Regions from separate parts of the Homo sapiens genome. Here region 2 is linked to region 1. The links come from fine-mapping of genetic effects on gene expression. A gene starts in region 1. The other region holds a variant in brackets. All regions are shown on one strand. Distances are between the middles of the regions. Region 1 holds the start of PYCARD (PYD and CARD domain containing). Region 2 overlaps ITGAM (integrin subunit alpha M).

Region 1 (4,380 bases):
GTAGTCGCAGGTACTCAGGAGGCCGAGGTGAGAGAATTGCTTGAGCCCAGGAGTTCAAGGCTGCAGTGAGCCACAATCCCTCCGGTGTACTCCAGCCTGGGCAACAGAGTGAGGTCCTGTCTTCAAAAGAAAAAACAAACAACAACAACAACAACAACAAAAAGGCTTTCAGCAGGGTAGCAGAGCACTGCTCCCCATCGTGGTTTTTGTTTGTTTGTTTTTGTTCCTGTTTTGAGATGGAGTTTCGCTCTTGTTGCCCAGGCTGAAGTGCAATGGTGTGATCTCAGCTCACTGCAACCTCCACCTCACGGGTTCAGGCGATTCTCCTGCCTCAGCCTCCCCAGTAGCTGGGATTACAGGCACCTGCCACCACGCCCGGCTAATTTTTGTATTTTTAGTAGAGATGGGGTTTCACTCTGTTGGCCAGGCTGGTCTCAAACTCCTGATCACCCACCTCGCCCTCCCAAAATGCTGGGATTACAGGCATGAGTCACCGTGCCCGGCCCATCCTGGTTGTCTTGTTTGTTTTTGAGACAAGGTGTCTGTTGCCGAGTGGCACAGAGTGCAGTGGCACAATCATAGCTCACTGCACCCTCAACCTCCTGGGCTCAAGTGACCCTCCGGCCTCAGCCTCCCAAAGCACTGAGATGACATGCGTGATGAGCCACTGCACCCAGCCATGCTGGAAGCTTTTGAATACAACATGCTGCAGGCATCACAGCCTCATTCATTCCTTCACTCAGCAAATCTTTACTCAGCACCTAATGTGTTCCAGATACATTTTTTTTTTTCAGATGGAATCTAGCTCTGTCACCCAGGCTGGAGTGCAGTGGTGCAATCTTGGCTCACTGTAGCCTCTGCCTCCGAGGTTCAAGCGATTCTCATGCCTCAGCCGCCCTAGTAGCTAGGATTACAGGCGCCCTCCACCACACACAGCTATTTCCAGGTACATTCTTGACGCTAGGAATTCAGCAAAGAATAAGACAGTTAAGGTCTCCGATGCTCATAGGCCTCACATTTTAGAGAGGGATGAATGTCCAATAAGCATATAAACGTATAATATGTCAGGGTCGTATGACTACAAGGAACAGTGATTGTTACAACCCAGATGAGAGGGAAAAATAAAGGATTCCAAATATCCCCCTTGGGAAGTAGAGTCAGGATTCAAACAAAGAACTGTATGGCTTCAAGTTCATGGTCTTTAATCTCCTGGAGGCTGTCTCTCTTTCTTTTTTCTTTTTTTTAATCAGTGTTGGGATCAAATTCTGGCTCCCCTAGGAAGCATCTGGCAAGGTTTCGGGAGCCATCGGGTTGGCCATGTTATGCTGGAATATTTATAAGCACCGGAGGGTTATCCCCATGTCGTAGAAAATGAAACTGAAGCTCAGAGAGATTTGCACTCTCTGCCCTTTTGTACAACTCATTTTTCCCCAGTATGTGGAATTGAGGGAGCTTCACGCTTCTAGCTGTCATGATTCCAAGATTCTACGACATGTGGGAGAGGATCCTAAGGTTCGGGGAACCGCGGAGGTTTCGGGGTTCTAGAAATCCGAGGTTCTAAGCCTAGGTGCTCCAATAAACCCAGTGAGAGCCAGCCCAGGTTTCCGGTCTGTACCCGCTGGTGCAAGCCCAGAGACAAGCAGGCGCCACCCATGAGCCCCTCTGCGGCCCCCTCCCGGGTCCCACCTCGCAGGCCAGCTGGAGGGCGCGATCCTGGCGTCCCCCGACGGCCTGGGGCCCCAATCCAGAGGCCTGGGTGGGAGGGGACCAAGGGTGTAGTAAGGAAGCGCCTTTTGCTGGAGGGCAACGGACCGGGGCGGGGAGTCGGGAGACCAGAGTGGGAGGAAGGCGGGGAGTCCAGGTTCCGCCCCGGAGCCGACTTCCTCCTGGTCGGCGGCTGCAGCGGGGTGAGCGGCGGCAGCGGCCGGGGATCCTGGAGCCATGGGGCGCGCGCGCGACGCCATCCTGGATGCGCTGGAGAACCTGACCGCCGAGGAGCTCAAGAAGTTCAAGCTGAAGCTGCTGTCGGTGCCGCTGCGCGAGGGCTACGGGCGCATCCCGCGGGGCGCGCTGCTGTCCATGGACGCCTTGGACCTCACCGACAAGCTGGTCAGCTTCTACCTGGAGACCTACGGCGCCGAGCTCACCGCTAACGTGCTGCGCGACATGGGCCTGCAGGAGATGGCCGGGCAGCTGCAGGCGGCCACGCACCAGGGTGAGCCGCCCCCGTTCCCCTCCACCCCGTCTTTCCCCTCCACCCACACCAGCGCTTACCCCGCGGGCTCTTCCGCTTTCTGTTCCTCCTACCCCTAAACAAAGCTGCTCTACCGGAAAGGAGGCTCCCCACGCTTGGCCTACCGACCAACGGGACCCCGGCCCCACGGCGGGAAGGGAAGGGAAGGGGATCACTTGGCCCATATCCTTCCAGGCTCTGGAGCCGCGCCAGCTGGGATCCAGGCCCCTCCTCAGTCGGCAGCCAAGCCAGGTGAGGCCTCCACACCCAGCCCGGCCCCACCGCACTCCTGCACAGCCTGCATCTGTGCTCCCGCAACCAGGGCAGGGCAGGGCAGGGCAGGCACGGCTTGGCAACCCTGCGCACCCCACCCACCAACCCACACCCTGCGGGGGAAGGGAGACAATATTACCCTCATCCCACTGCATGTGGGGTCCTGGTGGCCGCCCCCTGGAGCCCTGCCCCTAGGCTTGCAGAGGAATTCCTGAAGAACTCAAGTTCAGCAGGGACAGGCCCCACACCCTGGCTGCTGGCTCATGTTCTCCTCCCACCCCCAGGCCTGCACTTTATAGACCAGCACCGGGCTGCGCTTATCGCGAGGGTCACAAACGTTGAGTGGCTGCTGGATGCTCTGTACGGGAAGGTCCTGACGGATGAGCAGTACCAGGCAGTGCGGGCCGAGCCCACCAACCCAAGCAAGATGCGGAAGCTCTTCAGTTTCACACCAGCCTGGAACTGGACCTGCAAGGACTTGCTCCTCCAGGCCCTAAGGGAGTCCCAGTCCTACCTGGTGGAGGACCTGGAGCGGAGCTGAGGCTCCTTCCCAGCAACACTCCGGTCAGCCCCTGGCAATCCCACCAAATCATCCTGAATCTGATCTTTTTATACACAATATACGAAAAGCCAGCTTGAACTTGTGTGTTTTCCTGCTTCTAGCCTGCTGGCATGTGCAGAGCTCAGCTATGCTTCAGAGGCCACCCAGCCTCCAGCTCCATGTCCCTAGGGTCTCTGGCACCCCAAATGCTTCCCCCATCCTTCCTGGTATCGCCATGGAATATCCCTCCTCATTCACCAGGTGGTGCTCCTCCAGTGCTCCCTAAAGGGTCTAACCTTACCATTATAGATAACAGCCTGTGACCCAGGTCCGAAGGTTAAAAGAGGCATGTACCAAAGGGCGCAAACTGGTGGGCAGCTCTGTCCAAGCCATTTAGAAACACACTAGTCTTCATAGCTCCCCTACCTTCCACATTTTCCACTGGAGAAAAATGCAGAATTAGAGAAATTTGCAGGGGGAGACACATTAGAGCATTATCTAAACATAGGACAGAAGAGCACAAGTCACCAAATTGCTCGAGGGCTCCTTCTGGTGCTGGCTCTTAACAGGCTTAAAGGCTCCCTCTGCCCCACCCCATCCCGTGGGGGAAAGGGTCATAGGTTGCACTTTGCTCAAAAAACATGCCAACCACCAAAGCAGATTTTCAGGAAATGAGTTGTGTGTGGTAGCTGCCTCTTTTCTTGATGCGATTTTTTTGGAGGGTTATTACTTATTCATTCATTTGAAAGGAACATTTAAAACTTTTTTTTTGAGATGGAATCTCGCTGTGTCACCCAGACTGGAGTGCAGTGGCGTGACCTCAGCTCACTGCAACCTCCACCTCCCAGGTTCAAGCTATTCTTGTGCCTCAGCCTCCCGAATAGCTGGGATTACAGGCCCCTGCCACCACACCTGGCTAGTTTTTGTGTTTTTAGTAGAAACAAAGTTTCACCATGTCAGCCAGGCTGGTCTGGAACTTCGGACCTCAAGTGGTCCACCCGCCTCCACCTCCCAAAGTGCTGGGGTGCTGGAATTACAGGCGTGAGCCAATGCACCCGGCCACTTTTTTCTTTTTTTTTTTTTGAGACGGAGGCTCACTCTGTCACCCAGGCTGGAGTGCAGTAGCATGATCTCAGCTCACCGCAACCTCTGCCTCCCAGGTTCAAGCAATTCTTGTGGCTCAGCCAGTCAAGTAACTGGAATTACAGGTGCTTGCCACCCCACCCGGTTAATTTTCGCATTTTTAGTAGAAACGGGATTTTGCCACGTTGCCCAGGCTGGTCTCAAACACCTGACCTCCAGTGATCCATCCACCTCAGCCGCCCAAAGTGCT
Region 2 (4,380 bases), 66 kb before region 1:
AAAGGAAAGGAAAGGAAAGGAAAGGAAAGGAAAGGAAAGCAAAGGAGGAAGGAAGGAAGGAAGGAAGGAAGGATTTGCCAGATATACAAAAGGAGTAGATTCTAGAAAAGGGAAGGGCACACACATATAAAGTGATGTGGAATGTGCTCCTCTGCCTTCTGCCCCATCCCCAAATCCACTTTCTACCCATTGCCGCTCAGCTCTGTGGCCTGGGAGGTCAACCTGCAGGGACCCCATCACCAGGACTCTGTTGCCCTCTGGATTCCCATTGGATTTGGCAGATGAGGGGGCTCAACAGAAGACTAGAGGGAGGAGGGCAGTGAGGTCCGGGTGTTCTCCCATTGAGGTTGTTTGGGGACAGCTATGTCCTTCACAAAAGACCAACTGTTCCTCAGAAGGAAGCCAGCTCCACATGACTCTCTCCAGACCCTGGTGAGCTCTCCCTCTCCTCAACCCATAAACCCAGGGGTGGCAACAGACCTGCTTGCCCAGGGCTTGGAAAGTCCCTGATGGCTCCCTTAGGCCTGTCACAGCTTTATAATTACTCCCTTTATAAATAAACCCCCCTCTTTGTAAATAAATCTTACTGAAACCGCCTTTGCAAAATTATGACTGAGACAGTGAAAGAGATCTAACTTAACTGATTCCATCTTGCTTCTAACCTCCAAGCTGTCCGTGTTCATTCCTGGGTGTAGGCTGAGCTAACTTTGGGAGACACTTAGTTTATAGTTTATAGTTTATAGTTTAAACAAAGATCGTAACAGCCCTTTCCCAAAGCAGACCTCCTTCTTACCTGGGGACTAGATTGCCTTTGTAGGACTAACGTTAGCCACAAGATGAGAAATTATGATTTAGGAGTCATGCAGCTGGAGGCTACAAGATTCTGACCCTCCCTAAACTGCTCCTAAAATCAGTGCTTGAGATATTTTGCAGACCTTGCACTTGATGGATCAGCTGGCACTGCCCAGATCAATAAACTGGTTCATCCGATCTTGCTGCCCCCACCCAGGAACCAACTGAACGCAAGAAGACAGCTCCGACTCCCGATGATTTCATCCCTGATCAATCAGCACTCCCAGCTCACTGGCTTCCCCCGCGACCTACCAAGTTATCCTCAAAAACTCTGCCCCCAAATGCTCGAGGAGACTGATTCGAGTGATAATAAAACTCTGGTCCCCTGCATAGCTGGCTCTGTGTGAATTATTCTTTCTCTATCGCAATTCTGCTGTCTTGATGAATCGGCTCTGTCTAGGCAGCAAGCAAGGTGAACCCCTTGGGCAGTTACATTACTGGAATGTGCTTTTGGTCCCAGTTGAGACTCCTACTGATATATGGGACAAGGGCCTCAAAAGGATTCTGGCAGAATCCAGGAATGCCGTTTGATGGAAACAGCACTACAGGGACAAACGTATGTGACGGCGATGGAGACACAGCGGTGGCATCAAGCAAAGAGCAGCGGGCAAGGGCCTTTCTACTCCAATAAGGAGCTCGACTTTATCTGTAGGCAATGGGGAGCCACAGAAGGTTCTTAGAAAAGGAAGTGAGATGATTTGTTTTGTATTTTAGAAAGACTGGCAGGGCACAGTGGCTCATGCCTGTAACCCCAGCACTTTGGGAGGCCTCCTGAATAGCTAAGACCACAGGCACACGCCACCATGCCTGGCTAATTGCATTTTTTGTAGAGATGGGGTCTCATTATGTTGTCTAGGCTGGTCCCAAACTCCTGGCCTCAAACAATCCTCCTGCCTTGACCTCCCAAAGTGCTGGAATTACAGGTGTGAGCTACCGCACCCTTTCGAATTTTGAACCAAGTGTATGTATTATATATTTTTTAATAAATGAAAACTTTTTTAAAGAAGTAGTCTTGAACCCTGAGAGTGAGGTCTAAAGAGGGAGAGGTAGAAGTGTTAGCTGAAGCCACAGAACTGGGTGATTTCAGGAAAGAAGAACACGTGGGTGAA[A/G]AGAGAACCCAGAACCCAGTGCCCCTAGGTGGAGAGGGAAGCTGGAGGCCAGCCGGGGGTGAAGAGAATGCACTCAGGAAGCTTGGGTGGTGAGGGTGAGGAGAGATGGCAGGAGATGAGGAGGAGACTGGAAGAGAGAAGATTGTTTTCATGGCTATCGATTGTGGTGGTTGATTGCTTTTCAGATACAGATAGAATGAAGAGTGTTTACAGCCAGAGGAAGGGGGAAGTTAATTGTCCTAGAGAGAAAACAAGTGATTCAAGAGATGCTGGGCCAGGCGCAGTGGCTCACACCTGTGATCCCAGCACTGTGGGAGGCTGAGGTGGGAAGATCTCTTGAGCCCAGGAATTCGAGACCAGCCTGGGCAACAAGGTGAAACCCCATCTCTACAAAAAATACAAAAATCAGTATATGCGCACCTGTGATCCCAGCTACTCTGGAGGCGGAGGCACAAGAATTTCTTGAGCACAGGAGGCAGAGGCTGCAGTGAGCCGAGATTGTGCCACTGCACTCCAGCTTAGGTGACAGAGCAAGACCCTGTCTCCAAAAAAAAAAGAAAAAAGAAAGATAGGTGATCACCTTAGTTGGTGCATGAGAGACTCTCAAAAGCCCATATGGAAGAATTTAGTCATGGGACAGAGGAGAGACAGGTCTTCCTCTAAAACGAGTGAGTCACTGCCAGGAGTGCTGTCATTATGGAAATTTGAGAAAAAGGAGAAAGTGCGGTGTTACAGCTCCTTTAGAATTTGTCAACAAATTCCAGTGAAGACTGGAAAACCGCTTATTAAGATAAAATAAGAGAAGGGGAAAGTGGAGGGAGTCCATGCCTGAAGCTTTTGTTTTCTCTGTGGAGGAAGGAGGATTAACTGTGGAGGGTGAAATATAGAGGAACAGGGCTTGAGAAAGAAAAAAAATGCAAGGGAGAAACATTCGCCTGTGGTCCCAGAATCAACATGAAGACAAGCAAAAAGATGGCATAGCCATCGAACAAAGCAGTGGGAAAAAGCAGCTTGAAAGATCCACGCACTCTGGCCAGGCATGGTGGCTCATGCCCCCCACTCATTCCCTGGCTCATTCCCAGCACTTTGGGAAGCCAAGGTGGGCAGATCACCAGAGCTCAGGAGTTCGAGACCAGCCTGGCCAACATGGTGAAACCCCGTCTCTGCTAAAAATACAAAAATTAGCCGGGTGTGGTGGCGGGCACCTGTAATCCCAGCTACTTGGGAAGATGGGGCAGGAGAATCGCTTGAACCTGGGAGGCAGAGGTTGCAGTAAGCCAAGATCGTGCCACTGCACTCCAGCCTGGGTGACAGAGCGAGACTCTGCCTCAAAAAAAAAAAAAAAAAAAAAAATCCATACAGTCACTCAGAATCTCAATCAACAGAGGTTTGGGGAACAGGGGTGTGGAAGGCCGCCCCCCAGGATGGTCCCCAAGATTCCCACCTCTTGCCAATGACACCTTGCACCATCCCCTCCTCTGCAGTGTGACCTGGACTTATTTTTTAAAGACAGGGTCTTGCTCTGTCACCCAGGTTGGAGTACAGTGGTGCAATCATAACTTGCTGCAGCTTCAACTTCCCAGGCTCAAGTGATCCTCCTGAGTAGCTGGGACTGCAGGTGTGTGCCACCACGCCTGGCTAATTTTTTTTTTTTTTTGTAGAGACGGGGATCTCCCTATGTTGCCCAGGCTTGCCTTGAACTTGTGGCCTCAAGCAATCTTCCCACCTTGGCCTCCAAATAGCTAAGACTACAGGTGCTCATCACCACACTCAGCTAATTTTTTTTTTTTTTTTTTTTAGAGACAGGATCTCACTACATTGCCCAGGCTGATCTCAAGCTCCTGGGCTCCCAAAGCTTTGGGATTGCAGGTATGAGCCACTGTGCCTAGCCAAGGCGTTTTCCTAAAGTACAAGACCCTAGCACCTCCCTAGCTTCTGACTCTAATGGGACCCAGTTCCCCCACTCTTCTGCACCCAGAGCCCAGACCTTGAGCAGACGTCACCTCAGTCCTGCCCCCTCCCCTGGTCTTTTGCTGCGCATCTGTTCCCTCTGCCAAAGGCAACCCACCTCGGAGGGCCTCTGGGAACTTCTGGGGCTGCTGCCGTAGGTTGGATCCAAACAGGAAGCAGAGCCCTTTCACATACGTGTTCTCACTGCAAGTCTGGTGCACGGTGGGACCACAGGCCTAGGGGACAGGAGCCAGTGGAAGGGGCTGCCCCTGCTTCCTGTCCTTGTACCCCAGCACCTCCACCCTCCACAAGACCCCCAGCCCCACCATGCGTGGGCCCCCAAACACCCCCATTAGGATGCTCCTCTGATCGAGCCCCACTCACCAGCAGCTGAGGGGGGCTGGTGGTGGCTGCCAGGGACAGGCCCAGGGACATGTTCACGGCCTCCACGGGGACTGCGGGGACAGAT

Evidence for each region. PIP is the estimated chance that this variant, and not a neighbour inherited with it, causes the effect.
Region 2: its variant is the best candidate, but not a certain one, in a credible set for the expression of PYCARD in fibroblasts (GTEx, PIP 0.76).

Annotation. Positions count from the first base shown.
Region 1 is chr16:31,200,252-31,204,631 of GRCh38, reverse strand. It overlaps PYCARD (PYD and CARD domain containing), which reads left to right and starts at 1,872. Exons shown (of 3, transcript NM_013258.5): 1 at 1,872-2,215; 2 at 2,429-2,485; 3 at 2,791-3,146. The coding sequence starts at 1,942. The coding sequence ends at 3,047. It overlaps PYCARD-AS1 (PYCARD antisense RNA 1), which reads right to left and starts at 2,747. Exons shown (of 2, transcript NR_102400.1): 1 at 2,646-2,747; 2 at 1,180-2,172. RefSeq lists a silencer at 1,522-1,881 and enhancers at 1,992-2,221, 2,411-3,041.
Region 2 is chr16:31,265,797-31,270,176 of GRCh38, reverse strand. It overlaps ITGAM (integrin subunit alpha M), which reads right to left. Exons shown (of 30, transcript NM_000632.4): 4 at 4,296-4,366; 5 at 4,030-4,147. Among named protein-coding and RNA genes, the nearest start is that of ITGAM, 8.0 kb to the right of the region's middle. RefSeq lists enhancers at 4,330-4,380, 3,924-4,380. The variant A/G (reference allele first, on the strand shown) is at 1,962.